Linked DNA regions of Homo sapiens: all the other regions are linked to region 3. Evidence: fine-mapped expression QTL. A gene starts in region 3. Each other region holds a variant in brackets. All regions are shown on one strand. Distances are from middle to middle.

The links. PIP is the estimated chance that this variant, and not a neighbour inherited with it, causes the effect.
Region 1: its variant is fine-mapped to the expression of PACC1 in cerebellar hemisphere (GTEx, PIP 0.90).
Region 2: its variant is fine-mapped to the expression of PACC1 in whole blood (TOPMed, PIP above 0.99).

The regions. Positions count from the first base shown.
Region 1 is chr1:212,268,605-212,279,131 of GRCh38, reverse strand. The region is part of intron 1 of LINC02608 (long intergenic non-protein coding RNA 2608); the gene reads left to right. Among named protein-coding and RNA genes, the nearest start is that of LINC02608, 11 kb to the left of the region's middle. The variant G/T (reference allele first, on the strand shown) is at 4,348.
Region 2 is chr1:212,373,911-212,384,437 of GRCh38, reverse strand. It overlaps PACC1 (proton activated chloride channel 1), which reads left to right. Exons shown (of 8, transcript NM_018252.3): 5 at 4,401-4,543; 6 at 6,732-6,876; 7 at 9,138-9,245. Among named protein-coding and RNA genes, the nearest start is that of SNORA16B, 26 kb to the right of the region's middle. The variant CT/T (reference allele first, on the strand shown) is at 4,536.
Region 3 is chr1:212,408,219-212,418,745 of GRCh38, reverse strand. It overlaps PACC1 (proton activated chloride channel 1), which reads left to right and starts at 3,860. Exons shown (of 8, transcript NM_018252.3): 1 at 3,860-4,024; 2 at 8,225-8,321. The coding sequence starts at 3,989. RefSeq lists a silencer at 4,149-4,208.

The sequences.
Region 1 (10,527 bases), 140 kb after region 3:
TAGTGGATGTATATCCAAAGAATATGAAATACCACTGGTAAAGATATGTGCATTCCCAATGTTAAGTGCAGCATTATGCACAATAGGGAATACATGGAAACAACCTAAATGTCCATCAATAGACGAAAATATAAAGAAAATGGTATGTACGTGTGTGTGTATAATGGGATATTATTTATATATATAATATATATATACACATGCATTATATGCATTATACAGACACATTTTATATATATAATATATATATAATGGAATGTTATTCAGCCCTCTAAGAGGAGATCCTGCTATTTGCCACAACATGGATGGACCTAGAGGACATTATGCTAAATGAAATAAGCCAGATACAGAAAAATATTGCATGATCTCATTTATGTGTAGATTTTAAAAAAAAAAAAAAGGAGTTCAAATACACAGAGAATGAAACAGTGGGATGCAGTGAGGAAGAGGAAACAGGGAGGTGTAGGTCAAAGGATACAAAACAGCATGTATGTAAGATGAATAAGTTTAGAGATCTAATGTAGGAGGAAAGTTAATAAAAATTGTATTATATTAGGCGTTTTTTGTTAAATAAGTAGATCATAGCTGCTCTTGTCACAAAAAGGTAACTAAGTAAGAGGGTAGATCTATTAATCTGCTTTACTAGAGTAACCATTTTACTATCTACTTTTCTAGATCTTTTTAAAGAATTCTAATTCCATATTGTCTATCTGGCCATTTTGCAAGCACAAGAACATACTGATATGATTAGACATCATGATTTTCAATTGCTGCCATTTTTGCTTTTTAACTTTAAACTTCTTTTAGTTAAGCTTATTATGATTCACCTCATTTGTTGTGGGCTATTGTACAGGCTATTGTGTTGGTCAACCAGGAGCTTAGACTAGGCCAGTGGCAGTAGAGATGGCTAGACTGGAGATTTATTTTGGACGAGGAGTATATAGGATTTGCAGATAGACTGAATGTGGGCTGTTGATACAGCAGAGGTATTATTAATCCCCGAAAACCTGCTCCTGTATTTATACTTTCTGATTATCACTGAATCATCTTTCCATAACTATGAAATCTTTTGCCCCATCTAAATGGGCTGTAATCATAAATGTTCAATAGCCCCTTGTCTACCCATTTCTTTACCTGTATAGATGAGGAACCAGGACATAGTTTGAAGGGGCTCAACTCATGCCAATATACCCTTGCCCTTGCAGAGTGGGACGAAAGAACCTGATGTTAGCAAACTCTCCACACTTTAATTCAACCCTGCAAACACTTTCCAAGTGCCTTCTGTTTGTCAGGCAATATGCCAGTCACTAGGAATGAAGAGGTAGATAAGGATGGGCCTTAAAATCAATCTAGTGAGGAGGGACAACATAAACAAATGAACAAACAATTATCAGAAATATTTTTTATGGTGTGGCAAAACAGTGAAATATAGGATCTAATTTGGTTTGGAAAGAAAGAGAAAATTTAACAGAAAAAGTAATGTTTGAAACCAGTCTTGAAACAAAACAAAGGCCAGGCATAGTGGCTCTTACCTGTAATCCCAGCACTTTGGGAGGCCAAGGCATGCAGATCACCTGAGGTCAGGAGTTCGAGACCAGCCTGACCAACATGGTAAAACCCGTCTCTGCTAAAAATATAAAAATTATCCGGGCGTGGTGGCATGTGCCTGTAATCCCAGCTACTTGGGAGGCTGAGACAGGAGAATCGCTTGAACCCGGGAGGCGGAGGTTGCAGTGAGCCGAGATCACGCCATTGCACTTCAGCCTGGGCAACAAGAGCAAAACTCCATCTCAAAAAAAAAAAAAAGAAAAGAAAAGAAACAAAACAAAATTATCATATGGAGAAGACCAAAAAAAGAAGAAAAATGCCTGCCATTCAGAAATTAGCTTACCACATTTCTCCATCACTATGAAGATTTCTGTATCTCAATGAATTTACTTATTCCACACAACTATTACCAAAAAGTAAAATTTCATTGCAAGAGGAGAATATATTATGCCACACCTTGTATCAGAATTTGACCTGGAAGTGGATGAGCAAAGAAAAAGTAGAGATTAACTTCAACACATAACTGTCCTCTGGGTATATCATAAAAAGCAATGATTGCAAAAGTACTATATGGTTCCTTCATGTTCCTCTACTATGCATATTTTATGTAAATATATAAGTGGTCTTCTGCTTTCATCCATCTGAAGACAAAAAAAAAAAGGAAATCATTCCAAGCAGTAGGAATATAACTTATAAGGTGCAGAACCCTGAGAGAAGGGGCTACATCTGGAAACCAAAGGAATTTGGTATAAGCTTTCTTCGGTGGGCAGAAGCTGCATCTATTGAGGAGGGCAGAGTGGGTCATGAAGGGCTTTGTGTGCAGTTATTGGGTTTCATCCTCAAGTCAGTGGGGAGACACTGAAGGATTTTAATAAGCAGGAGAGTGGCATGATCAGATTTGCATTCTAGAAAAATTACATTGTTGGCAGTATGGAGGATGAACTGATTACAGAGGGCAAGGCCAGAGAAAGGGAGACCTGTGGGCCAGAAGACAAATAGTAAGACTCTGTGTCAGCATCAAGTAGGTTTTGAGGCAGTCCCTGTCTTAAAATACCTAGCTGCTGAATGTCAGCAATGTATTCTCTCTCATTGGCTTACTATTTTGGATCAAATTACTTTGAAAATCCTACAAACTCACTGTTATCTTCTATGTAAGGTGTTGTCTACAATTTGATAATACTGGTAGTACTAAGAGTTTTTCAGGAATTATTAAATTGGAAATTAATGTTTTCAGACCCTATGCTTTGACTTCTATGCAAACAATATGGCTTTTTCAAAAATTTGTGTGTCTGTAGGTAAGTGTAAATATAATCTTGGCTAGGTGCAGTGTCTCACATCTGTGATCCCAGCACTTTGGGAGGCCAAGGTGGGTGGATCACCTGAGGTCAGGAGTTTGAGACCAGCCTCGGCAACATAGTGAAACCCCACCTCTACTAAAAATACAAAAATTAGCTGGGCGTGGTGGTGGGCACCTGTAGTCCCAGCTACTTGGGAGGCTGAGGCAGGAGAATCACTTGAACCCAGGAGGCGGAGGTTGCAGTGAGCTGAGATCGCACCACTGTACTCCAGCCTGGGGGACAGAGCGAGACTCTGTCTCAAAATAAAACAAACATATCATCTCTACCATAAATTTAACACCTACTATATGCTAGGCACCATTCATATAAAGAATCTGGCAGAAAGAGATCAAATGAGATCCCCCCTTAAAGTCTCTTTCATCTATGTGACACTCCTGTCTTTTCCCTTGGGAGTTTGGTCTTGGTGACTTCTTCCATTTTCAGGAGCAATTTTTTGTATTCTAGCATCTCTGGAGTTCTCCATTCTTATAAAAATCAGTGGAAATTCAAGGCTCTGTTTATTAACTCTGTATAAAAACATTTACAAAAAAATGAAATTAGAATGGATTAGCATAAGATCATTGTTCTTGCCTAGCACTTTAAAAATTTTGTGTTTATGGAACTTTGGAGCCTACTACCTAGAAGGAAAATGAGATTATCAAGAGATGTAATGGTGCTTAATGTTTTCTTTTCATTCACTCAAAAATCATTAATTAACTTCTTATAATGAGCCTGGCCTGTTCCAGGTGCTTGGAGTATAGTGGTAAATGAGACGAAGTCAGCCTGCATGGAGCTTGTCTCCAATGGTGAAAGCTCACATCAATTAAAGTCCAACGGTGGAAACAAAGCAGGGAATATGCACCAGAGGAAACACCATGTGACTACACACACAGACCTTCAAAGCTGCTTAGGAGAACCTCTAGGGTGACCAACTCATCCTGGTTTGCTAGAGACTTTCCCAGTTCTAGTACTGAAAATCCAGTGTCCCAGGAACCCCCTCACTTTTGGGCAAACCAGGATGGTTAGTCACTCTATGAACTAAACACGCAGCAACACATTTATTCAAGGCCTATTATTAGCAAGGCCCATGGCTAAACATTGTGGCCTCTACCCTAAGAGAGCACAAGCTCTAGGGGAGAGATGAGATGAGGCATGCATTCACAAAAAGATAACTTCTCATTCAGAACACTATTTGATGAGAGCCAAGATGGTACATTTGGAGGGAGGTCATAGGTGGTATTTGTGCTCAGGTGGAGAAGACGGAATTCAAGCTTGACCTGGAGGTTCAGGTATAATTACATAAATAGAGAAAAAGATAAGAGATAAGGGAAAGCACTATCCAACTGCTTACTGCATGCCTCTTAAACTCCAAGTTTCCAACTTATTATGTTGACCTCCTCCTCCCCTCTCTGTCTCACTATATTGCTGTCCACCAGTCAACAAAGAGAGAAATGACATCGAG[G/T]TGTGGAAGTGGAAAGAACAAGTATGTAGATGGGAGGTTAAAAGATGTATTGACTGGAGAAGATGCTTTTTGGAGGGAACAGTGGGAGGGAAAGCTGGAAAAGGTACAATTATTTACTTATTCAACAAACGTTCAGTGTTTATTATTGGCCGTTTTCTGGTCTAGGTTCTGGGTATAGAAAGGAAAAAAAATACAATTCCTTCTTTCAGAGAGTCTGGAGAGGGAAAGAAAAAGCCCTCCAAACCCCATACCCACCACAGATAGTCTCATAAATGCTGTAACAGAGGTAAGCACAGAGGAGAAAGTACAGAATCTCTGGCGTGGAGAGCAAGAAAGGCTTTCTAGAGGAAGATGCTCTAGATCTGAGAATTGAAAAACCAGAAGGAATTAGGAAGACAAAAAAAAAAAAAAAGGAAATCATTCCAAGCAGTGGAAATATAACTTATAAGGTGCAGAACCCTGAGAGAAGGGGCTACATCTGGAAACCAAAGGAATTTGGTATAAGCTTTCTTCAGTGGGCAGAAGCTGTGTGTCTATTAAGGAGGGCAGAGTGGGTCATGAAGGGCTTTGTGTGCAGTTATTGGGCATTATCCTCAAGTCAGTGGGGAGACACTGAAGGATTTTAATAAGCAGGAGAGTGGCATGATCAGATTTGCATTCTAGAAAAATTACACTGTTGGCAGTGTGGAGGATGAACTCATTACAGAGGGCAAGGCCAGAGAAAGGGAGACCTGTGGGCCAGAAGACAAATAGTAAGACTCTGTGTCAGGCATCTGAGATGGAATGGCAAGATCAGACTCAGGAGATATTGTAAATAAATAAAATGACTTAGTGACTTATTGGGCATGGATAAGGGTATGGGACACAGAAGAGGAAAGGGTGATTCCCAGGTATCCAGACTGAGTGACTGGTGGGCAGCAATGCCATGTAGTGAGACAGGGAAGGGAGGAAGAGGTGGACGTAATAAGTTGGACACTTTGAGAATAAGCAGTTGGATAGTACAGGCTTGCAGGAAAGAGATCTGTACTGAAGGTAGAGATCTGGTAGTCATCAGTATACAGATAGGAGATGGAACTCTAAGAATACCCTTGTTCTCCTGGGTGGAGTGTATAGAATAAGGAAAGAGGGTGAGAAAACCCCTGGGGTTGCTGGGCGCAGTGGCTCACGCCTGTAACCCCAGCACTTTGGGAGGCCGAGGTGGGTGCATCATGAGGTCAGGAGATCGAGACCATCCTGGCTAACATGGTGAAACCCCGTCTCTACTAAAAAATACAAAAAAATTAGCCAGGCATGGTGGCGGGCACCTGTAGTCCCAGCTACTCAGGAGGCTGAGGCAGGAGAATGGTGTGAACCCGGGAGGCAGAGCTTGCAGTGAGCCGAGATCGCGCCACTGCACTCCAGCCTGGGTGACAGAGTGAGACTCCATCCCCCCCAAAACAAAACAAAACAAAACAAAACAAAAAAAAAACCCTGGGGTACCCTTACTTGAGGACACTGCAGAGAAAGAAGATAGTATCAGATTATGGAGTGTCAGCAAGTTTGGACCTGATTCTGAAGTCAGTGGGGAGATGCTGGAGACTATTTGAATAGAAGATGTCATGTTGAAGTAGTGTTTTAAGATCACCAGGTGAAGGCAATGGAAGCCAAAGAGATTGGCTGGAGATGATTACAGGTGTCCAGGCAGCCAGGGCTTGAATGAGTGGTGCTAAGCAGTGTGTGTCAGTGGCACCCATGGAGCTTTTCCAAGCTATAACTTCCTGGCCCCCCAGTGGACATGAGAATCTTGGGGTAGAAGAGGCAAAACGTGTAGTTTCAAAAAAATCCCAAGTGATACTCCAGTCCCCTCCCCCTATCCTATCCTCCATTTCTTGGTGATGAGTGGCTTGAACTAAAAATGGCCTTAGGAATAGATGTGAGAGATACTACAAAAGAATACTACACTGGAAAGATTTGACTAAAGGTGGAGGAGGGAGGTGGCAAGTCAAAGAGGAAAATTACAAATGATGCCAAGGTTTTGAATTGGGTGACCAAATAAATTGGGGGCCTTTAACAAAAGTCCAGTAGCTGATCCAGTTTTCTTTTGTGGGAGGAGGTAGAGAGGGGTGTCAGAGGAAGGAAGGGAAAGAGAAGCAAACATTGAGTCTGAGGTTAGAAATGTTGAGTTAAAAGAGCTTTTTAAGGTCGTTGAAGCTGAAGAGCTGGATCTTTATTTTTAAAAAGAGGTGATGACATGTTGTATATTAATTTGGAGAAAGAAGACGACTAGAATGGGCTGACAGCCTAGTGTAGGCCAAAGCAAAGAAGGAAATTACACAAACAACACAAGCCTCTTTTTCCTCTTTAAGGAAAAAAAATCATGACAGAAACAAATGGGCAAAAGATGGCCTGTCATGTGCCTCTGCATTCTCCAGTGCCAAACAGTCAGTAGAACTGCACAGGAGAGGACCAGGCCCAGGGCAACCCCTTGTATCTGCTGTGGCTGTGGGCCAAAGATCAGGAACAATGCAGCCGTCACTCTGGGCTCACCATGTGCACACACACAAGACACACACACACACACTCACCCTGCATTCTAAATTCTTAACCACCTTCTAAGCAAAACTATACCTAGATCTTTTTTATGATGCCTTTATAGAGGAAGAAAAAAATCAATTTACCAACTGAACACCTCCTCCTAGTTTCAGGCAAGATCTGTGCAAAGTCTTCCAGCTTTCCCAACTTCTTGATTAGTTAAGGCCTCTTCTTACACTCAGCAGATAAGTCCCACTCCGTCACGCTGAATTACAGTGATTGTTTCTCAGCTTACTTTGGGTCAAGGATATGGGCTAGGACTGGAGAATGACCTTAGCCCTTCAGACTGAAAGATGCAATTTCAGTCCTTATACACATTGGGCATGTTTCAGTGTGAATTATTTGCATAGTGGCCTTAAGAGAGAAAGTACTACATCAATCCAATGATTTAATACAGCACTATATCCTTCTGGGTGCTAGGGAAGCAAAGTTGAGGAGGACACAGATTGTGCTCTCTTGGAGTTTACAGTTTCATGATGAAGAAAAGTCAAGCACACAGAGAATCACTGTATAATTCAAGAAGAGAAAAGATGTATCAACAAAATGCAATTGGGGCTAAAGGAGGAAAAATAATGTTATGATTGGAGAATGAAGAACAAGGGACACAGAGGAGCAGCTGGAAGGTTAAAATTGACTTTGAAAATTGCACAGAATTTCAGTGGGTAGCTAGGTAGGGGAAAGGAGAAGAACATTCAGGTAAGGGAAACAGCATGAGCAAGGTCACAGAGAGAGGAATATGTGTGGCATATTTGGAGAACAGCAAATAGTTTGGTTTGGCTGCGGTATAGGAAAAAAGTAGGAGATAAAGCTAGGAACATAGGTCGGGGACCTACTGCAGAGGACTTTAAATGCCAGGGTGAGGAGTTTGTACTTAATTCTTCAAGTAATGGGAAGCTATTGAAGACTTTGGGGCAGGACAGCAATTGATTAGACTTTGATCTAAGAGGTTTAATCTCACATCTGTTAACTGGGAGGAAAAGAGGGTAGAAGCTACAGGCAGGGCAAAATTTTAGACATGTGTTTAACATGTCTGTGCACTCTCTGAATAAAGATGCTCATTAACACTTGGAATGAGGGTCTGATATTCAGGAAAAAGGTATGGTTAAGGTTCTTTGTAGCCTTAGTTTCTTTACTCTGAGGACTGTTTTGGTAATCAGAAGATAATGCTTTGAAAAACACTTACAACAGTTCCTGACTCATAATGGGCATGTGAGACAGATGTGATGGTACTTGAGGCGGTGGTAGCATCAGTAGTAGTTGCACAGTTAGTTCTTCCTTGTAACCCTTTTGTTCTTCCCAGAATTCTGCCATGAGTTCAGGCAACAAAACCAAATGGCAAACTCTTGCTGTAGCCAGAATTGCCCTTCTCCTAAGAGGATCATGGCTGTATATTGAGTCAAGCAGTTGTACTGGCTCCTTTTTCTCCCCACCCCCGTAAGATAACCACTCTACTGGGAAAACGCTTAGCCCCTGGCAAAGAGTCCTGTTGAGTGTCTCTTTGTTTTGTCTGTTGCATTCAGACACAGAAGCTCAGAAAAGCTATAACCCTGGATGGAAGAATGAGTGGAGCTAAAAACATGTAAAATACTTTTTATTGTTTAGGGATATATAGTGCATGTAAATGTATGCATGCACACACAATTTTATATATATATGTATATATTCCGAAACATTCCTGTATATATAATGGGAATTGAAAACACCAAATTCGAAAACTGGTTACTTCCTAGAAGGAAGGCAGGAAGGAAAATATAAATGAGAGGGATACACTGAGGGTTTCGGCTATATCTGAATGCTTTTTTTTTTTCAGCTAGATGTTGGATTGATATATGTTTATTATATTATTCTCTACAGTTTGTATGTAGGAAATGATGTGTATGTATAATATATATTTTTTTAATTTTGGAATGAGGAAAGTAGGGTCTATATATTTTAGAAATGATGAGCTTGAGCTGATATTTGGGCACTTACAAAAGGGGAAATTGAATATGGAGCAAGTCTTTTTCAGCATGCACTTGATCCAGCCAGCAGATGACTGCAAAGCCTCATGCACCAAAGTAGGAATCCCCAAAAGGAGCTGAATAATGGAGAGCCTCAAGCACTACCCCCAGAGATTACCCATCACAGGAAAAGTGACACTGAAGTAGCACCAGCAGAGGAAAGCTAGAGGAACAGATGGGTTGCTGTAACAAAACAAGGGAAATGTAATTCCTTAGATGCTTGAGGGGAAAAAGCATAGACTAGGAAGTAATCTGTCAGTAGCAGCAGGGAAGAAAGAAAGAGAAGACACTTGGACTTCTCTGGAAAATACCTGTATTGACTTATCAAGAACAATTCCAGCAGTGCAAAAACTGATTGCTATGAAGAAACTTCAACTTCCAGACATGAAAATTAACTGGAATTTGACTTGCCCTCTCACCGGTAACAACTAGAAAATTGGCCATAATGTATGAAACAGTTGTTTTCATTGGACAATACACAGTGAGGAATTGTGATCCCTGAGAAAAGAGAAAGAAATGAAAAGATCCCTACAATATTCCTGGCTTTCTGCCTGGAGGCACTTTCCAGACCACAAAGAAGGGGACCCAAGTAGACATGACAATCTTGCTATGAGGAGGACAAAAAAGATCAGAGTTTGAGGAGACTGAGGAGGCTGGAATTTGTGAGGCAGAATACCAGAGAAGACAGAGGTATGCAGAGAAAGAGCTCCAGAAATCTTGAGCCCCCTTGAGTCCATGCAACTCCATGACACTGGGCAAAAATAAATAACTAAAAAAACTCTTAGGGAGCTGTAAGCTAAACAATTTCCTGAGCTCCCACTGGGCTGGGAAACATTCTAGTTCCAACCAGGGAGAATGGAGAGACCTTGTTGAACCCCTGTGGCATTCAGAAAAGACCCCAGAAGGGCTTCATGTATATGCAGTAGGGCAAAACTAGCCCTAAAGTAAAGGCTACTCTAGACCTTCCCTAACCAATCTTAAAAGCAAGCATCAAAAAAGATCAAACTGATCTGCTAGTTTTGACCAGACACCAAGCCATATAGAAATCCAGTATCCAACATCCAATCAAAAATTACTAGATATCCAAAGAAGAAGGAAAATGTGGTTCATAAACGAGAGAAAAAAAATCAGTTAACAGAAACAGACCCAGAAATAATAGAAGAATATGCAATTGGGTAACAAGAACTATAAAAAAAGCTATTGTCAATATGTTTAAGAATTTAAAGGAAAACATAAAAATGTTGAGCAAAATTGCAACTATAAAACAGAATACAATGGAATTTCTAGAGCTGAAAAGTACAATATCTGAAATAAAACATTTATTGAATGGGCTTAACAGCAGCTTAAGTAATGAAGAAGAAAAGATCAGTGGACTTGAACATATAGCAACAGTAACTATCCATATGGCAGAGAGGATGAAAACTAGAAGAAAAGAGAAAAAGACAGGTTAGGCACATTGGCCCATGCCTGTAATCCCAGCACTTTGGGAGGCCGAGGCAGGAGGATCACTTGAGGCCAGGAGTTTGAGACCAGCCTAGCCAACATGGTGAAACCCTGTCTCTACTAAAAATAACAAAAAAATTAGCTGGGCGTGGCAGCATGCACCTGT
Region 2 (10,527 bases), 34 kb after region 3:
TGGGTGATGAAGCTGTGGACAGAGTAATGGCCAGATGAGAAAAGAACATGCATCGTGCTGTAGAGCCACACTTGCTCCCTTGGGTAACAGGGAACTGTTAGTGGGTTTTAAGATGAAAGAATAACACTAATTTTTTTTTTGTTAGTATGTGAACGCTAGGCCCCCTCCTAAAATCCTGCTAAAATGATTCTCTAAGGAATGAGATAGAACAGACTAGAACATCAATAATAGCTTTGCACGTGAAGAAAGGATATCACCAGTGGACCAGACATTTTGAGGAACTGGTATAAAGCATAAAAAACAGCTTGGGCCAGATTGGTGGAGCAAACAAATTAGAGCAAATCCCTAACCCAAAACAGATGAAGGAGAGACCTGTTGTAGAGGTACAAGCTTTCCTTCCAAACCCCCAGCTTGGAATCAGCACCGTTAGAGAGCAGGGTAGTCATTACTGGACTGCCTGTTGGCTGGGCCAGACACACCCTATACCCTCCCCAGGTATGCAGAGCCGCTGGGGATGGTTGCCTCTGGGTAAAAGACCCTGGAACCATTCTCTACAGAAGCGAAGGGAAGATGATTCTTTGTGTAGGCATAGGAAACAGAGCAGACTTCTACAATGGAAAAGGAGAGAGAACTAAAGGAAAGGACTCTTCCCAGAGTAAAACACACTGGAAAACTCAGTGTGCTTCCACAGAGCATACTTAGCTTTCCCATGCAAGGGAGAGGCCTATTAGAGAAACAGAAATTTACTACTTTGGAAGAAACCAAAACCCAGACCTATACTAGTCAACCTAATCCTTCATTCATAAATAAGAATGGAGAATTAATGGTCACCAGACATTTGCATGAAACCAATGACAGAAAAGGACCAAGATGAACAAATAGAATGGACTCTAGAATAGGGAAGTAGAAGCTAATTAAAACAAAAAGGAAAGCAACTTTTAAACAATTCCAATGTGGAGTTATATGTATAATAGAAGCTCTTTGTCTGGATTCCCAGCTCCCTTCATCTCTCTGTAAAACACGCTAATGAAAACTCGTGGCTGCTTCCGTCCCACTAGGTGCCTATTCTCTGGATGCCCTCCTCTCCTCCCCCAGTTGAAGTGTATGCTTAGGAGGAGTCAGTGAGGGTCATTTCCAAACCTGTGTAGGCCAGTTGCACTTGTTACAATAGTTACATAATTCGACTAAAGAGTGTAAAAACCCTTGAAATAAGGGCACAAAGAGAGAGTTGTTTTTATGGAAATGAAGTTGAATGCAGCTACTGCCCCCAAGTCTGAGTGTTGGTTCATCTCCTCCATCAATTTCTTGAAGTCCACAAGCTATAAACTAACAGAGAAGTTATCTCCTCCCTATCCACCAAGTTTCCTACCCAAACCAGCATATAGCAGTGGAGGAAGAATATGATGAGAGCAGTAGAGCTCCCATTTGGAAAAGGAAGAAGGGGAAGGGCCCGCAGCTCTGCTCTGCAGCAGTGGTGGAACCCTGCAGGGTGGGACCGGTGAGACGCCTTCTTGGCATGAAGTAAGCTCCTTGGTTTGAACCTGTTGCTGCCCTCAGAAAGAGACTCCTGTGTGCTCTGGCCTCGTCCCCTGGGAGCTTCTGCCTTGGTGGTAATGCTCTGTGGCCATATCTGAAGTGGACATTAGAAAATACGCCCTCCCTGGTGGCTGCACAGCTTGTGCCACTCACTTCCTGCTTGTGTGAGCAGCTTTAGGGCTAAACAATTGCAAACTTGGAGGGCGGCTTCTTACCTGCCTCCTGCCACTGCCTATGTTTGCAGTGAGATTTCAGAAATGTGTAGGCTTCTGGCTGTTCGCATCTAATCAAGTTCATGTGAAAGTGACCCCAGTCGAGGGTCTCATCCTGTTGTATTTGTAAAATCTTCGGAATTTTGCTGATTTTCTGGTGCTTTCTTTCATGCTCTCAATTTAATGGTAGTTATTTTTTACCAAATGCTCTGCTCTGGCACAATAAGGTTTGCCACCTTTCCAGCCTGCGGGATCCTTATCTATTTCCTTACTGCCCGCCATTTTCCCACTGCCCAAATGTTTGGCTGTTCCCTCATTTTGATTTTTTTTGCAACCATAAAACACTCCAGCCGGGCGTGGTGGCTCATGCCTGTAATCCAGCACTTTGGGAGGCCGAGGCAGGTGGATCACGAGGTCAGGAGATCGAGACCATCCTGGCTAACATGGTGAAACCCCGTCTCTACTAAAAATAAAAATAAAAAAATCAGGCGTGTGTAGTGGCACGTGCCTGTAGTCCCAGCTACTTGGGAGGGCAAGACAGGAGAATCGCCTGAACCCGGGAGGCGGAGCTTGCAGTGAGCCGAGATCACGCCAGTGCACTCCAGCTTGGGCAACAGAGCGAGACACCGTCTCAAAAAAAAAAAACAAGAACACTCCAGTGTCAGCTAACAAATTGTGTATTAGTCAGAGTATAGGCTAAGCTACCAAATAAAAACAAAACCTGCAAATACAATGGCTGAGATGAGGGAGAAGCCTCCTTCTCTCTCTGAGAACAGTCCTGGCATGCAGGCCGTGTGGCGTAGTGGGCAGTACTGCCTCATAGGATAGTCCAGCCATGACTTTTGTCTTGTCACTGTGCTGTCCCCTGGGCATTGTTCTGGTCCATGTGGGCAGTGTGTGTGTGTGTGTGTGTGTGTGTCACTGTGCTGTCCCCTGGGCATTGTTCTGGTCCATGTGGGCTGTGTGTGTGTGTGTGTGTGTGTGTGTGTGTGTGCAGTGTGTGTGTGTGTGTCTGTGCACATGCCCAGGCCTGGGAAGGTGGAGGGCAAGCAGTTCCCTTTTCAGGAAATGGGGTGGAGTTGAATGAGTCCCCTTTTCTTTCGCACATTAGGAACTTTATCACGTGGCTACATTTGAGGGCAGAGATGAGGCTCCAGCAGGGGGAGTGGATTCTGCTGAAATCTGGGTTGGGAAAGCCATTCTAGTACTAAAGGAAGAAATGGATAATAGAAACCAGGGACAGTGCTTTCTGTTGCACACTTAAAACAAAATGGTACAGAAAGGTTGAAAAATAAATAGATGGACAAAGCTGTCTTGAGAAGATGCAACGAAAACCAGAAGTGACAATATTAATAGTGTGGAATTCCACGTGCAAAAGTTTGCAAGAAGGATGTTTAATATTGATAAGAGGTTCAACTCCATACTCTCCACTAAGACGACTGAACAGTTCCAAAACTTTATGTACAAAACAGCATGACATTTATATATTTTAAGCAAAACCCGTTAGAAGTAAAAAATACCATCACTTTAGAGCACGATTTAAACACCCCTCTCAGAAATTCACAGATCAAATAGACAAAAACTAGAAAGGATAAGAATTGAATAGTGCAGTTAATAAATTTAGAGTATGTATGTGTGTGTATACATGTGGGGGCACAAAACTTTGTAACTGACAGTGTACTCACTCTTTTTCAAATCTCTGTAGAGCATTTATTTATAAAAGTTGATGTAAAAGACATTTTTTTCTAAAATTAATCTATAAATTCAGTTTCTATCACAGTTAAAAGTCCCAGTGAATTTTTTTGTGGAACTAAGCAAGCTAGTCTTAAAGCATACTTAGAACACGTTCAAAAATAACCAAGACAAGTTTGGGGATGGGGAAGAGTAGTAGGGAGAGCACCTTCCCAGATCTCAGAACAGTGGAAAAACCACAGGAATCAAAGTGGCACAGTACTGGACAGAGACAGACAAATGTGTGGGCTCTGCTAGGGCCAGAAGCAGACATAGATATTGGTTCTGCATGGAATTTAGTATAGGATAAAGGAGGGAGGGGAAGAGGCTTCAAAACCTGTCTCTATGCATTGTTTGGGAAGTAGGAGTTAGAGCCCTATTTCACACTATATACAGAGCTTAAAGCCAGGTATATAAAGTATCTAAATGTAAAAAAGATTAAAAAGTGCTATAAAGAAATAGAGGAGAATATTGATATAATTTTGGCTTTCCTCAGCAAGCAAAACCCAAAGCCGTAAAGAAAAGGATTTAAGGTTTTACTACGTTAAATTTAAAGTTTCCATAGGACAAATGACATTGGAAACAAAGTTAAAAGAAAAATGACAGACTGGAAGAAAAGATTGGCACACATAACAGATGAAAGTGATCATCCTTGCTAAATTAAGAGCTTCCATAACTCAAAGAACCAATGAGAAAAGTGGACAGAGGATGAGCTGCATTCAGCTCTGGTTGGGCATCATATGGGGAAAACTCCCCAGGAATGAGCATGAGTCCCAGCCCAGTCCTGTTGTTGGCTAGTGGTCCCTTTGGAGACCACTGGGCAAGGAGCTATGGGCTTTCCAGTCAGTACTTCTGCCCTCAGACCCAGAGGCCTCTGTGTACTCTCCCAGGACTGAGACTCTGTCCTTTTTCTCTCTGCAGAAATCTGCCCTGATTGTCCAGGGGCCCCGGGAAGTGAAAAAGCGGGAGCTGGTCTTCCTCCAGTTCCGCCTGAACAAGAGTAGTGAGGACTTCAGCGCCATTGATTACCTCCTCTTCTCTTCTTTCCAGGAGTTC[CT/T]GCAAAGGTGGGCTTTTAGAGTTCACAGTGGGCTTACTGTCTACTTTTTATCTTATTCCAGCTGTGTATGTCCCAAGGCTAGAGACGGAGGGGTGAGGGCAGGGAAGGGAAGGGGCATTCTCAGATGACCCACTGGCCCAGGAAGGGACCTCATGAGCTTGGCCGGTCCACTCAACATCTTATCACAAAGTTAAGCAAATCTGGTGTGGAGGAGCATGCTGGCTCTCCATGCACATAGTGCTGGCTGGTTCTAGAGAGATCATTTGGTCTCACCATTGCCTGGGGCTGCTGAGGAGTAGGGGAAGTTGCCTTTGATTTGTAAGTCCCTTTGAGAGCAAGTTCTTGTGTGGTTCCTTGGTTTCCCCCACAGTGTGCACAGGAACCACATCTTGCCCTTAGTGCGGGCTTAATGTATGTTTGCCTGAAATACAGTTGGTCCTTGAACAACTTGGGGTTTGGGGTTACCAAACTTAACCACTCCTGCCTATGCAGCCAAAAATTTGTGTATAACTTTTGACCCCCAAAACTACTAACAGCCTACTGTTGACAGAAGCCTTACCAATAACATAAACAACACATATTGCGTGGTTATATATATCATAGACTGTATTCTTACGATAAAGTAAACTAGAGAAAAAAAATGTTATTAAGAAAATCATGGCCAGGTGTGGTGGCTCACACCTGTAATCCTACCACTTTGGGAGGCCAAGGTGGGCGGATCACGAGGTCAGGAGATCGAGACCATCCTGGCTAACATGGTGAAACCCCATCTCTACTAAAAATACAAAAAATTAGCCAGGCGTGGTAGCGGGCACCTGTAGTCCCAGCTACTCAAGAGGTTGAGGCAGGAGAACCGATTGAACCCAGGAGGCAGAGTTTGCAGTGAGCTGAGATTGCGCCACTGCACTCCAGCCTGGGCAACAGAGCGAGACTCCAAAAAAAAAAAAAAGGAAATCATAAGGAAGAGAAAATATACTTACTATTCATTCAGTGGAAGTGATCATTGTAAAGGCCTTCATCCTCATCGCCTTCATGTTGAGTAGGCTGAGGAGGAGGTTTGGTCTTGCTGTCTCAGGAGTGGCAGAGGCAAAAGAAAATCCGCACGTGAGTGGACCCAGCCAGTTCAAACCTGTGTTGTTCAAGGGTCTACTGCATCTCTGGTATGAGGATATAAGCTCTGCCACCTCTCTTAGTCTTCGATTTACAGTGATGAATGTCCCCTGACCATCAGAAAGTTCTTGTCTGCTCCACACACACTGCTTTGGGGTCACACCGTGGAGCCTAGAGGGCAGGAGAATTTTCTTCATGTGCCTGAGTTGAGAGGGACTCAGTTCCTACCAGGTCCTGCTGAGCCCAGAGGCTCCATTCAGAGCAAGCAGGGAGGCAGCTACAGGGGCAGGGAGGCTGCTCCCCAGCTGGACATGCAGCGAGCTGCCTCCATTCCACACCACCACTGCTTTGTTCTTCCACCCCAGAGCTCGGAGCCTCTGCCTTAGCATTTTCCACCCTTTCTGCCACCTAGAATTCCCTCTCCCTTCCCTGCTTCAAGCTGGCCATCTTGCCTTCCTCCTGGAAGACTTTCCCCGGGATCCCACCCCCACTCCACGCTCCTTTCGTGAGCTTCCTCGGTATGCTGCTGCAGTTTTTACTTGTTTTTATGTTCGCTTTGATTTTGCTGCATCTGCACCGTCTTGGGGCTGATGCTGTAGGTGACCCATCTGGCTGAGACCTCCCCAAGGAACCCTCTTCCCCTCTTTGGGCCTTCCATGGGAGCTGACAGGCTGGTGAGGGCTTCCTCAGGCTCTGCTGAAGTCCAGAGTTCTCTGAGGAGCTGTGAGCGCCATGTTCTGGGGAGCTTCTGCCAACTTCATTGCCGACAGCTTTGGTAGCCATCGATAGGAATGATGGGAGGAGGGAGGAAGATTTCTCCCACTGGGAGCTTCAAGGATCATGTTCCTGCCTTGAGGCCAGTGACTACCCCTCCATTTGGAAACCAAATGGAGAGAAAAGAGGGATGGGCCTTGCTTTTGCTGGTGACTGACAGCCCTGTTGAGGCAATCACAATTTGGAGAGGAGGCAGGGAGTGGGCAGCATCCTGGTTGTGCCAGCAAAGAAACCAGCTTGCAGTGGGGGCTTCGACTCCTGCTGCCAGACCTGCATTGACCTGGATCTTCCTTCTCCTTCCTTCCTCCAAGCCCAAACAGGGTAGGCTTCATGCAGGCCTGTGAGAGTGCCTATTCCAGCTGGAAGTTCTCTGGGGGCTTCCGCACCTGGGTCAAGATGTCACTGGTAAAGACCAAGGAGGAGGATGGGCGGGAAGCAGTGGAGTTCCGGCAGGAGGTAGGTGGCTCTGGGTTTGCTTGAAACTGCTGGTGACTTTTCCACATTCGAGTCTGAGGTGGAGGGAAGCTTTGCAGAGAAGGCTCCTTTGAGCAGGGCCTTAAGGGTGAGTAGGCCTTGGTCAGGATGAGAAGGGACTCCCATGGAGGGCTTCATATGCTATGCCAGGGAGTCTGTGTGTGCTTCTGCAGGCAGCGCACATACCGGCCAGTCCTCACGGAATGCATGTGTGGGGCAGAGATCATTGTGGCTTGCAGAGAGGTCAGTAACTCGCCCAGCTGTGTCTGATGTCTTGCATCTAGCAGCACTTTGAGGGGCTGGCAGTGGCCTAGCAGATTGATTATTTGCAGGGAAGAGAGACTAGACACAGTGGTCCCAAGTGTGCATGTTGATCCTTTTCCTAAGGTCCTCTTCAGCTCTCACAGGTGTCACAGCGAGAGATGCCAGGTGTATCTCCTGGCTGCTAGGCCAGTGGGCTGAAAGCTTTTTGATCAGATTTCCCATTAGTAAAAACTTTTTGATCATATACTCCATATACATATAACTCTGCAGGTGATATAACATACTATTATTGTCTTAGTGTTATATACACTTTAAACATTCAAAAATAGAAATGTTAAAAGGATGAGATAAAAATAAATAGTAAAAAAAGCTAGTCTTTTCTTCTTGTATCCCAGTGGCTCGGGATGCTCATCTGGAGCAGAAGGACACACTCCAGTCAACTAGGCCATCACTGGCCAGAAGTTAGGCCGGAGAAGACTGTCTTGGGTTAGTCTTAAACAGGGCCCTGTCATGAGCCCTAGCTCCTCAGACTAGTCCAGGCTGGTTACTTGGAAGAGGCTCAAAGCCAGTTTTCTTCAAGGAAGCAAGGCTATTTTTCCTGCCTTGGGAAGTGACAACCCCTCCTGGTGACTGGACCTTAAAATCTTCCTGTTTTGTAAGATAACTGTCATCTCCCAGATTTTTACCTCCAAATTTGCTCCAAGAAATTCAAGTCCTTTCTTATCTGGCCCCACAGCAGCTCTGAGGAAGGAGACTGTGTTCACTTACCTTACAATTAAGTTCAACCCCATCTACCCTGGATTTTCTGATAGCTCCCACTGTGATCCGAAACCAAAGGGTGAAAACTCTAGTGAACCTGTACATTAAAGAAATTTTAGCATCTTTTATTACTGTCTAAATTGGAAGTCTTTTGTTGGCATTATGAGCTCTTTTGAACAAAACTAAAAAATGTGTTTTAAAATCACATTTTAGAGTTTAGAGTGCTCTCACATAGGTATGCCCCTATACTGTAGTGACGTAGGCATTTTGTTCAGCTTTGTGGGTGGCAAAGCTGAGGCTCAGCTTCGATGATGGATCTGAGCCTCTGGGTGGAGCTGGTTTCTGCCTTTGTTACCTGTCTGCTCTCCGTTACACCACACAGCGTCTTTAGTAATTGACAACCAGATCTCACCAAGCACACCTACTAAGTATTTACAGGGAATGCTCAGCTGTGTGGATCTATGCAGCTGTGCTTTGTCCCTGTAAACTTGAAGGGTTGAAACAAGCGTTGAAAATTCAGAGAAATACTTGATCTGAAAACCAAGTACTTTGAAATTTGGAATTTTTATTGCTTTTAATTGTGAGTCTTACATGGTAGTTTGAATATGGTTTATTTTTAATATTTTATTTTTTTTGGAGACAGAGTCTTGCTCTGTCCCCCAGGCTAGAGTGCAGTGGCACTATTTCGGCTCACTGCAACCTCTGCCTCCCAGATTCAAGCGATTCTCCTGCCTCAGCCTCCTGAGTAGCTGGGATTGCAGGCGCCCACCACTACACCTGGCTAATTTTTGTATTTTCAGTAGAGACAGGGCTTAACCATGTTGACCAGGCTGGTCTCAAACTCCTGACCTCAGGTGATCTGCCTGGCTAGGCCTCACAAAGTGTTGGGATTACAGACGTGAGCCAACATGCCTGGCCTGAATATGGTTTAATTGTGAGTACAGATACCTAGTGACAAATTTCAGTGACAATCCAAAACACCTATTGTAAATCACAGATCCCATTTCCCCAGAGAACTGTGGAAACCAAGGTAAAGCCTTGGCTTTGCTACCAATGTCAGGATCTTGTATATATGAGATTTTTGCCACTCTCTCTCCAAAAAATAGTGTGAGGAGAACCACAGACTATGATCCCCTGCCTACTCTCTCTCCTTTCGCTGGGCACAGGCAAGGGAAGGGCACACAGAGGTGGTAACACTGCTTTCTCTCCTCCACATCTAGACAAGTGTGGTTAACTACATTGACCAGAGGCCAGCTGCCAAAAAAAGTGCTCAATTGTTTTTTGTGGTCTTTGAATGGAAAGATCCTTTCATCCAGAAAGTCCAAGATGTGAGTATTTAAGATTATGATAGTATTATTTAAGATTATGATAGTATTATTTAAGATTATGATAGATGTATTATTTAAGATTATGATGCTGCCCTGAAGTCTTTTGGCTCATTCTTGTAGACTGATAAGTCTACCTACCTGTCCTCATCTTTTTTCATAGCACAAATCAGCTTGTAATTTATATTTATGACATCAATGTTATATATTCTTTGTGTTTGGTCTTGTCTTCATCACTAGACTTTCTCTGTAAAGGAGGGGGACTTTCATTTTGCTCACCATAATTTATCTGGGATATAGTGGAGTGCTTAGTGCAAAGTAGCTGCTTAGTAGTAATGTTCGTTGAATAAATTGAGTAGAAAGCATTAAGTTACCACTATACAGGTTACTGCAGTTGCAAGTTATTCTTTTTCTTAATGGTTCCCTGTAGGATAAATACTACTTGTAGTAAGAACATAATGGTACAAATAAAATATTAACAAAGCATTAATTAATGCCATATTTTAAAAAAATTGATACATAATATACATATTTATGTGGTACATGTAATATTTTGATAAATGCAGACAAAGTCTAATGATCAAAAATCAGGGTAGTTGGGTTATCCATCATCTCAAACATTTATAATTTCCTTGCATTGGGAACATTCTTCTAGCTATTTTGAAATATATAATACATTCTTGTTAACTATAATTGCTCTACTGTATTATCATGTCATCTATCTTACTGTATTTTTGTACCCATTAACCAATTTCTCTTCATCTCCTGCTTCCCCCAACCCTTCCCAGCCTCTGGTAACCACCATTTTACTCGCTACCTCCATGAGACTCATTTTTTTTTAAGCTCCCACATGAGTGAGAACGTGTGGTATTTGTTTTTCTGTGCCTGGCTTATTTCACTTAACATAATGTTCTCCAGTTTCATTCGTTTTGCTGCAAATGACAGGATTTCATTCTTTAATGGCTGAATAATATTCCATTGTGTTTTATATATATATATACACACCACATTTTCCTTATCCATTCATCCTAAGTGTTGATGGATACTTGAGTTGATTCCATATCTTGGCTGTTGTGAATAGTGCTACAGTAAACATGGGAGTGCGGATATCTCTTTGATACACTGATTTCCTTTTTTTTTTTTTTTCTTTTCTTTTTTGATTTCCTTTCTTTTGGATATGCACCCAGCAATGAGATTGCTGGATCATATGGTAGTTCTAGTTTTAGCTTTTTGAGGAACCTCCATACTGTTTTTTCATAGTGAGTTTAATAATGTAAATTATTAC
Region 3 (10,527 bases):
CTGGACCCACCAATCACTCCTGTGGCCCCCACCCAGCAGTGACTAAGTGCACTGGAGGACCATTTCCCACACCCCTGTGATTGCAACCCCAACCAATCAATAGCAAGCACCCACCCCTATCCTATCCCACAAACTACCTTTGAAAACCCCTGGCCCCCAAATGCTTGGGGAGATTGATTTGTGTAATAACTCTGTCTCCCTGTGGCCTCAGTCAGTTAAACTCTTTCTTTACTGCAATGCCATGGTCTCAGTGAATTGATATTGTCTATACAGCAGGCAGGAAGAACCCATCAGGTGGTTACACTACATGCCCCTAGTGGTCCTCTCCACTGACACTGCCTTCTGCTTGGCTTCAGCCTAGGGCCTGTGTACTGTACCTGTGCCTTCTGCCTGTACCCGCACAGACCATCATGTGCTAGTCCCTTCTTGTCATTTAGGTCTCAACTCAAAAGTAACTGCCATCAGGAGGCCTCTCTTGACATCCCCCAGATATATTAGCATCCTACCACCCTGGCCCATGTCTTCCACCTTTTTATAAGGACGAGTCATATTGGACTGAGAGATCACCTTACTCCAATATGACCTCATCCTAGTTACATCTGCAATGACCCTATTTCCATCTAAGGTCACATTCTGAGGTACTGAGGTCTAGGTCCTCAACATATTTTGGGGGAACACAAGTCAATTATAGCAGGAATCTTTAGGGTATAGATGATAATTCAAGCCATGAGGCTAGAGGTGACCACTTCACTAGCCCCTACGGAGTGAATAGAAAGGAGGTGGAAAATCTAGCTTTGGGGCTGGGCGTGGTGGTTCTCGCCTATAATTCCCCCAGCACTTTGGGAGGCTGAGGTAGACAGATCACTTGAGGTCAGGAGATTGAGACCAGCCTGGCCAACATGACGAAACCCCGTCTCTACTAAAAATATGAAAATTTTAGCCAGGCATGGTGGCAGGCACCTGTAATCCCAGCTATTTGGAAGGCTGAGGCAGGAGAATCACTTGAGCCCGGGAGGCAGAGGTTACAGTGAACCAAGATTGCCGCACTGCACTCCACCCTGGGTGACAGAGCGAGACTCCATCTAAAAAAAACCAAAACAACAACAACAAACCTAGCTTTGGGAAAGTCCGCCCTGTAGAGCTGAGATGAGGAGAAGTCAGCAGAGAGGCTGAGAAAGAGCAGTAACTGTAACTGTAATAGGCCTGTTGCCTGATGTGTGCAGCAAGTCAATATGCCAAGACGGAGTTGCAGTAGAAAAAGAGGCTTACCAATAGGGCCTCCAATCGAGGAGATGGAGGGGAACCTCAAACCCTCTCTCAAGGAGTTTGCGGCTTTTCTAAGGGTTTTTAAGGAGTAGGCTGAAGTGTGGAGACTGCTGATTGGCCAAAGGGAACAGGGTGAAATCATTGGACAGAGAGAGAAGCAGCTGTATTCTCATGCTGATTCCATTCCTCTGTTGGTGTCTTCAAACTTGTTGGTGTCAGCTGTTTCACTGGAATTTGTGATCTGAAAAACATTTTAAGCAATTTTTTTTTTTGAGACAGAATTTTGCTATTGTCGCCCAGGCTGGAGTGCAATGGTGTGATCTTGGCTCACTGCAACCTCTGCCTCCCGGGTTCAAGCGATTCTCCTGCCTCAGCCTCCTGAGTAGGGAGGCTAGGGAGGCTGGGATTATAGGTGCCCGCCACCATGCCTGGTTAATTTTTGTATTTTTAGTAAAGATGAAGTTTTACCATGTTGGCCAGGCTGGTCTCGAACTCCTGACCTCAGGCAATCCGCCCGCCTCGGCCTCCTAAAGAGTTGGGATTACAGGCGTGAGCCACTGGGCCTGGCCTTAAACAATTCTTAAGCAAAAGCCTTATGATTCCAATGTCAGAAATCCTACCTGTAGGAGCAGTGGAGATGCAAATGGTCAGTATCTAGTGCTACATGACTTTTGGCTACAAGGAAGTGGGTCAAATTACAGCCTGATTAATGCTTAATTATAACTCTATTTCTGTGCAGAATTCGTGTTAACCCTGTGAGGATGGCTTCAAAGTGAGGTAGGAGCAAGCCGGGAGTGTGTGGTGTCCTGGAAGCCAGGGAGGAACGCGTATCAAGGAGGAGGGAGGATCAGCCAAGTCCACTGTGGCTGATAAATCAAGAAAGAGGAGGATGGGAAAATGGCCATCTGATGTGACAACACTGAGGTCACTTGTGACCTTGACAAGCACTGTTCCAGTGGAGTGGAGGGGAGTAAAGCCTGACTGGTGTGTGCTCATGAAGGAATGGGAGAGAGGACTTGGGGGCTGCAAGGACAGAACATTATTTACATGTTTATGATCTGTCTCTCCACAGTTGCATGAAAGAGCCACGAAAGCCAGGACCCAAGGGTATCTTATCCATTTCTGTATCCCAGTGCCCAGCACATTGTATTTGTTAAGCCATATTTTATATTTTATTAGCCAGTATCTCCTTCAAATGTGGGAGCCCATAATTTTCCAGTTTGGTCACACCAACAAAGACTAGAGAGGAATGACAGGGTTGGAATAGAATTCTCTGGTTCCTTCCAGCTCTAATATTCTATGATGGTGTGAACTTGTTCTATCAAGTACCATTGTATTAACACAGTAAGGAATTTAATTAGTGGTCTGCTATTGTTAATTTGTTTTGGTAAGCAACTGTTAAATGAAATGGCTGGAATCAGTGTTCCATTCATAAATTTAACAAACATTTGTCGAGTGCCTACAATGTGTTAGGCACTATATATATTGTCCCATATAACAGATTTAAGAGCAGAGGGCCTAGGATAGGGGTGAGTGGTCAGGAGAGGTGATGGGGACCTCCCATTGCTAATGCTCCAGGAGGTCCAGGGTTCTTTGATGTGGCTGGCACTATTCTGCTTATCACTGAGGAGAGAAGAGGCTCCCAGTGGCCTGAGTGGAGGGGTTACCAAGCTGCAGCTGCAAGGGACACAGAGCAGCATTCACCAAGGCACAACAAGCAGCCTCTATCTGCTTCACCACTGAGGAGCCGAGGGCCCTCACACAACAGCTGTTTCAGGCAGTGGGAGGAGAGGAAGATGTGGTCTTCAGGTCCACCCTGCCACAGGGCCAACACCAGATTTGACGCCACATCTAGCGCTTGAGGCTTCTTCTGTGGCTGAACAGCGGCTTTAGGCTTTCTCTGCACGATCCTTCCTTTCTGCTTTCATAGGCCTTGTCAGGCAGGGCAGGGTTTAGCAGTTGCATTCTAAGGCGAGGAGAGGAGGGCTCAGAGCATTGCAAGACCTAAAGGGGAGGGTCAGAGCCAGGACAAGAACCTAGGGGTACTCCTGCCCCTGGAATAATGGAGAGAACATGGGCTCCGCAGTCTACCCCTGGATGAAATAATCTTCATTTGATTACCGCTCCACCCGCATCCTTTCTGAAACAAAGTACCTCAGTTTCCTCATTTGTAAATTAGGGAGAAAAATGTCCTTCTTACAGGGTTCCTTGCAGAATCAACGGCATAATGTGAGTGAGAGCGCTTTGTAACTAACATACAAAGTGCTCTCCAGACATTTATTACCGTTTTAAACCGCCAGGCCAAGCTTCCTCTTGCAATTATAGATTAGGGGCTCCTACTCATCTGACTTTGTTCCACTTTCCACTCCTCTTCTCCGTCCCTCCCCCTCCAACAAAGAGAGGAAGTGAGAGACGCAGAGGCACGCGTCTAAGGACCAGCTTAGCTGGCCCAGGGTCACATGCAGGCCTCCGCCACAGGGGTGAGAGCTGGTGTGAGGGGCGCCCCCGCCCAGAACTACATTTCCCATCAACACTTTCGCGACTCCTGGGCGGCAGCGGCCAGGCGCATGCGCCGAGTATCGCCACGCCTGGTCTCTGGGACGCCCCTCCGGACCGGTTTCGCCTCGCGGAGCCGGTAGGTCCAGGTGCAGCGGCCGCAGTGCTGCGTCCGTGCGCCGCGGGCTGGGGCGGTCTCAGGTGTGCCGAAGCTCTGGTCAGTGCCATGATCCGGCAGGAGCGCTCCACATCCTACCAGGAGGTACGAGGTTGTGAGAGACGGAAGGGAAGTTTGAGGCGGAGGAGCAGGGTCCCGGGGGCCTGGGCGGATGCGGGGCGGGGGGTGTCGGGGCTGCGCGGCAGAGGGCTCTTCCGAGGGACCGACGGGTGCGTCAGGGGAGGGCTCCCGGGGTGCAGAGGAGCGGCCCAGGGGCAGGAAGGAAGCGGGGCAGCGGAGCGGGCGCCCAGCGTTCTCCGTATGCTGCGGGTTGCATGGCCGAGGTCCGGAGTAGGGTCCCCGGCGCCGCGACCCGTAACCAGCAGGTGAATGATTGAAGCTACCTGAGGCCCAGCCTTCCGCGCTCCCCGCCGGAGCGGCAGCCCAATGGCCCAGAGGAACCCGGCGTTCTTTGCAACAAGTGGAGCGCCCGCGCCCTCCTCCCGGCGAGATCTGATGCGCGGTCGGCATCGTCGGCATCCTCCCCCTCCAAGCCCAAGGCCTCGCTGTCCCCGCGGCTGGTGACAGGATTGATTACCTGTTTTTTGGTGACCACCTAACTTTGAAAAAGTGCCTTCATGGACTCTGCTAGTTCTCGCTCCTCTTCGTCTCTCCCTCCAGTCTCACCTCCTCCCACGACTTTATCACTTTCCAGTTCTTTGTCTCTTCTCTGTCCTGCGCTGCAGGCTGTGCGTCCAGCGCTTCCTTCAAGCAAGCCCTGCCTCCTCACTTCTCCAGCTGTATTAGTGAAACTGCTCTCCTCCTCCGCCTCCACTTCTCGGCCCCCAAACCTTGGTCATCTTTGGCAACCGTCCTCTTCTGTGCCCCTCCATCGTGCCGCCTCATTGGCCAAAGTCAGGCAGTTCCAGGTCGGTCCTCCTCCAGTTTGTGTCCCTGTGTTTGCTGTAACCTCTGAGTGCGATACTGTGTTACCATCGCTCCCTTTAGTCTCTTATACTCTCCAGATTTGCCTTGAGGCCCTGCCTTCACCTCGGAGCATTCCTTTTTTCTCAGACCTGACGCTGCCCTTCGTCTGCCCAGAACAGTCCAGACTTCTCAGCAGGCTCCCAAAGCTCTGAACAGCACAGCAGCCATGTCTCCCATTACCTTTGCCACCTCCTAACCCACCTAGGGTCTGGCACAGTGGAAACTCAGTTTTAAAATGTGCTCCTGCCTCTGTGCGTGTGCTCACTCCATTCCTTCATCAACGCTCCGCCAAGCTCCATTGGGTAAAATGCCCCCAGAAGTCAAGGGCTACCTCAAGTTCCATGTGTTCCATAGGGGTCCGCTTTCCAGACCCGTCTGCATTTCTGTCTGTCCTTCTCATAATGAACTTGCTGCCTTCTGTCTTAGTCAATAGTTACTGCTGTACATATCTCCCTTTGTAAAAGACTGATTCACAGAAGGGCTTTGTGGACTATATAAAGCAGGTGGCTTAGCCCTACAGTGGAGGGAGAAGCCAACTTGAAGGCAGATGAGATTTGCCTAAGGCTTGCCATTTTTTAGTGTAGGATCTTGGCTGGAATCTGGCCTTGGACAGATTTCTATATTTCTCCTCCCATCCCCTTTATTCCATCTGTTTCCTTTGTCTGAAAGGAGTCTGAGGGATTTTAACCAGTGCTGTGGATTCCATGACCCCTAGATTCTGTACCCTAAACAGTGGGGGAATCCTGGGGAATGAGATGTGTCTGAAAGTTTTTAGGTTTATAGGGTGTGGAGCACAGTGGATAAAAGTCAGAAAGCCCACGTTCGTGCCTGGCTGTGCCTCTTGCTGTTTGTGTGACTTTTATTGAGTCACATAACTTTCTGAGCCTCAGTTTCTTTGTCTGAAAGATGAAGATAATAAAAGTCCCTACCTCCCAGGGTTGTTTGGGGATTAGATAAGTTGGTGTGGAAAGCGCTTGGCTCAGTGTCTGGCAAATGGTGACCCCACAGTGAATGATAGCTCTTGTTAACGGTGTGGGCAGCTCCTGCGTCCAGGATGCTTTGGGGTCCTGGCTTAGCAGGAACATGTGCCTCACCATCCACACATAGCCAGCCTAGCAGGGCTTATAAAATGTTTATTAAAATATAGGCACTTACCCCGCTTGGAGGGCCAAGGCCCAGGGTAGACTCAGTTTCTCTTTGGAGGCATCTCCAAAGTGGGAGGCACTGGAAGGGTGCCCTCCCCTTGCCTTCTTCAGAGGCCTGTTCTGGAGTCCCTGTCTCTCACTTCCTCAGAGAATGGGGCCACCCAGAAAATGGCCGGCGTCTTTCTTCCTGAACCATTCTGTGAGTGTACCTAGCTCTGAGTAGGTTTATTTGCTGAGGGGGGATTTTTCCTTGGGGAGGGTGGGATATACTGAGAATTTGGCCAGGGGCAGGCAAGGAGGCAGGCTCATTATGGCTGTGGGTAGTCAGGAAGGGAACCTGGTGGGAGGGTGTTAGCACCTGGGTCAGGGTGAACCTGAGTGAGGCTTGAATCAGGGAACTTTGAGATTTCCCAGGACTAACATCCTCCTCTCCCTTTGGCCAGTGAGACCTCTTTATCTGTGCTCCTGCTAGTGGCTTATATCTCTTGGTGCCTTCACCAGCCTCCCTGCCCTTTCCCACTGGTTGCTTTTCTTTTCTTTCTTTTTTTTTTTTGAGACTGAGTTTCACTCTTGTCACTCAGACTGGAGTGCAATGGTGCGATCTCGGCTCACTACAACCTCCGCCTCCCGGGTTCAAGAGATTCTCCTGCTTCAACCTCCCAAGTAGCTGGGACTACAGGTGTGCGCTATTATGCCCGGCTAATTTTTGTATTTTTAGTAGAGATGGGGTTTCACCATGTTGACCAGGCAGGTCTCGAACTCCTGACCTCAGGCGATCCGCCCACCTCGGCCTCCCAAAGTGCTGGAATTACAGGCATGAGCCACCGTGTCAGGCCCCGCACCTGGCCTTTTCTTTTGTGCTTCGAGGGCTTTAAACTGGAGATTTTGCCTGATTCTAAGGGGCAGGAGTGGAGTCGTGGAGAGGGAGATAGAAGAATAGATTCGTAAGAGATGTTTTTCACTTGTCTCTTGGAGGTGAGTTTTTAATGAAAATGTCTAGAAACCTTAAAACCTTAAACACTGATGCTGTGAACCTGACAAAGTGCTTGGGAAAGCTGTCCCCTCTCCCTCCCAATTCAGGGATGGCTTCTCTTCTAAGCTCTGGTCTTGAGCTCTCTTGCCCTCCTCCTTAATCCTACAGAGACTTGTTGATTATCATGGTATCCTTTCCGTCCTTCTTCCCTTCTCAGTGGTATAATTTTCCCCATTTGACAGGTGAGACCACTGGTGAAGTGAGGTTGAGGTTGCTGGCTACCAGGCTGCTGATTATAATCAGCACCTATCCCTGTGGTGGACTGCCTGCCCTTCCTGCTGTGTTCTGCCATTTGCAGCCCAAGTCAGTGGACTTCAGCCAGAGTGCCAGAGAGAGCTCTGACACCACCTTCACTGTTCCCTCTTTTCTCTCAGCAGACTCTAAGCCGTATTTCCTCTTCCTTTGGGAAGTGGTTAAGACTATGGGCTTTGGAACTAGACCAACTTGGATTTTACTCCTGCCATATCTTTCCCTGGCTTTATGGCCATGGAAAATATTGTGGGTTGAATTGTGTTTCCTTAAAAAAGATATGTTGAAGTCCTAACCCCAGGTACCTCAGATTGTGACCTTGTTTGGAAATGGGGTCATTGCAGGTGTAATTAGTGAAGATGAGGTCATACAGGAGTAGGGTGGGCCCCTAATCCAACATGGCTGGTGTCCTTCAAGACGATGACCATGTGAAGACACAGAGAGAGCACACCTTGTAAAGATGGCAGCGGAGAGTGGAGATTGGATGCCTCTACGAGCCAACGAACTCCAAGGATTGCTGGCTGTCACCAGAAGCCAGGAGAGAGGCATGGAACAGATTTCCTCACCACTCGTAGAAGAAGGAGCCAACCCTGCCAACACCTCAATTTCAGACTTCTAGCCTCCAGAACTGTGAGAGAAGACATTTCCGTTGTTTTAAGCTGTTCGGTTTGTGGTACTTGCTACAGTAGTCCTAGGAACACAGAGAGCAGAAAGTTTATTGAGCTTTCTGAGCTTCGGTGTCCTCATCTGTAAAATTGCTGTAACACACTCTATGTCATGTGGTTTTTGGTGACAATTAAGTGACAAGCAGCTTCTGCTTTCTTATTCTAGTGTAGAAAAGCAAGGCTGACATAGCTGACTTGTCTTTGCTCTCTTTGCTTCTCCCTTTAGCTGAGTGAGGAGTTGGTCCAGGTGGTTGAGAACTCAGAGCTGGCAGACGAGCAGGACAAGGAGACGGTCAGAGTCCAAGGTCCGGGTATCTTACCAGGTGAGTGCGTTTGGTGCTTTGCTGTGCTGTTGCTGCAGCTGGACACCCCAGTCTAGGCGCCTTGCCAACTGTGGGAGAGGAGGAGCCCCCTTCCCTGCACCCTGGTGTCAGGTCTCAAGTATTGCCCTAGTTTTAAAGCCATACATATTTAACCAGCCTTGGAACAGAGGATATGTCTAGGCTGGTATCTGCTCTTAACTCCAATTTGAGCCACTTCCTGAGGTCAGGTCATTGCATACAATGGCAAATGCTTTGGATCTCTGCTCTTCTGTTCCTCTTTCCCTGGAAACTGCTAGCAGGTGAGCCTCTAATATCCGGGTCAAAGAAGATCTAATAGGCCCCCTCTTTCAGATACTAGGCCTGTCCAGTAATGCTGCTCAGTTGGGTAAGCAGGGTCCCATCAGTCAGTTGGCATCTTATGGAGCCCTACGGCAATGTTTGACACTGCTGACTACTTCTTCCGCCCGGATACACGCTGCTCCCTTAGCTTCTGTGATGCAGCATTTCTCAGGCCACTCCTTCCAGGCTCCATTGCGGTCACTCTCCAGCTCTTGGGCATGAAATGTTGGTTGCAGGCCCCTTTCTCTCACTCTCATAGACAGTTCTACCCAGGCCTGCTCCCTTGCTTCAGCCACTGCTTGCTCACACGTGACTCCCATGTTTACATCTCTAGCCCAGAGGTTACCTACAAACCGCAAATTTATATATCCTGTATTTCCAACTGCCCATGTCATAGTTCTGCTTGGATCTCCCAAAGCTTCCCTCAACTCCACATGTCCAAAATTGACCTCATGATCATCTCAGTCCCAGCTTGGTCCTCTCCCAGTATTTCCTGTTTGCAGGAATGGTACTACCACTTAACGCAGTTGAACTTCAGAGTAGTTCTCCATTCCTTCCTTCCTCTCATCCCCTTTTTCTCTGGCCCTCAGCCATGCTGATCTTTTTTTATTTTAGGCCTCATTCCCTCTCACCACAGGGCCTTTTTGTTGTTTTATTTCTCTGCCTGGAATTCACTTTCCTTCTTCACATAGTTAATGCCTAATCATTCTTCAGCTTTCAGCTCACTCATTTTTTTCCACAGAGCCTTCTCTAACCTTCTGGCCAGATTACCTCCCACCCTCCAGCACCGTCTCATAGTCCACGCGCCTCTCCTTTCCGGCTATTGCTGTTGGAATGGTGCGTTTGTTTGTCTGACTAATGTCTGTCTGTTCTACTACAGCAGTCCCCAACTTTTTGGCACCAGGGACCGGTTTGTGGAAGACAATTTTTCCACAGATGGAGGTTGGGGGATGGTTTCAAGATGAAACTGTTCCACCTCAGATTATCAGACATAGTTAGATTTTCATAAGGAGCACACAACCTAGATCCCTTGTATGTGCAGCTTACAATAGGATTTGCACTCCTATGAGAATCTAATGCTGCAGCTGATCTGACAGGAGGTGGAGCTCAGGTGGTAATGCTCACTCACTGCTCACCTCCTACTGTATTGGCCCAGTTCCTAACAGGCCATGGACCCGTATTGGTCTGTGGCCTGGGGGTTGGGGACCCCTGTTCTACTAGAATGAAACTCCCTGAGGGCAGAGACCAGTCTGTTTTGCTCACCAGCCTAGCCTTGACCACGCCATAAAGATTTGTTGAGTGAATGAATGAAGCCCCAGCCTGACTTCAACTTCTTGGATGGATCCCATCTGTTTGTGGGAGAGGGGAACAAGACAGGAACTAATGTGGTTCTGCCTGCTCCTTACAGAAGACTGCATGGAAGGGACCGGGCACGGTGGCTCATGCCTGTAATGCCAGCACTTTGGGAGGCTGAGGCAGGTGGATCACCTGAGGTCAGGAGTTCAAGACCAGCCTGGCCAACATGGTGAAACCCTGTCTCTACTAAAAAATACAAAAATTAGCCAGGTGTGGTGGCACATGCCTGTAATCTCAGCTACTTGGGAGGCTGAGGCAGGAGAATCGCTTGAACCCAGGAGGCGGAGGTTACAGTGAGACGAGATCATGCCACTGCACTCTAGCCTGGGTGACAAGAGTGAGACTCTGCCTCAAAAAAAAAAATAAAATAAAGTAAAAAAAGACTGCCTGGAAGGAAGGAGGCTGGAAGGGCAGCTAACATTTCCTGACTGCTTCTCCTGTGCCAGGATCTGTCGTACCCCATTTGCCCCATTTAATTCTCACATCAACCCTGTGAAGTGGTTATCCCCCT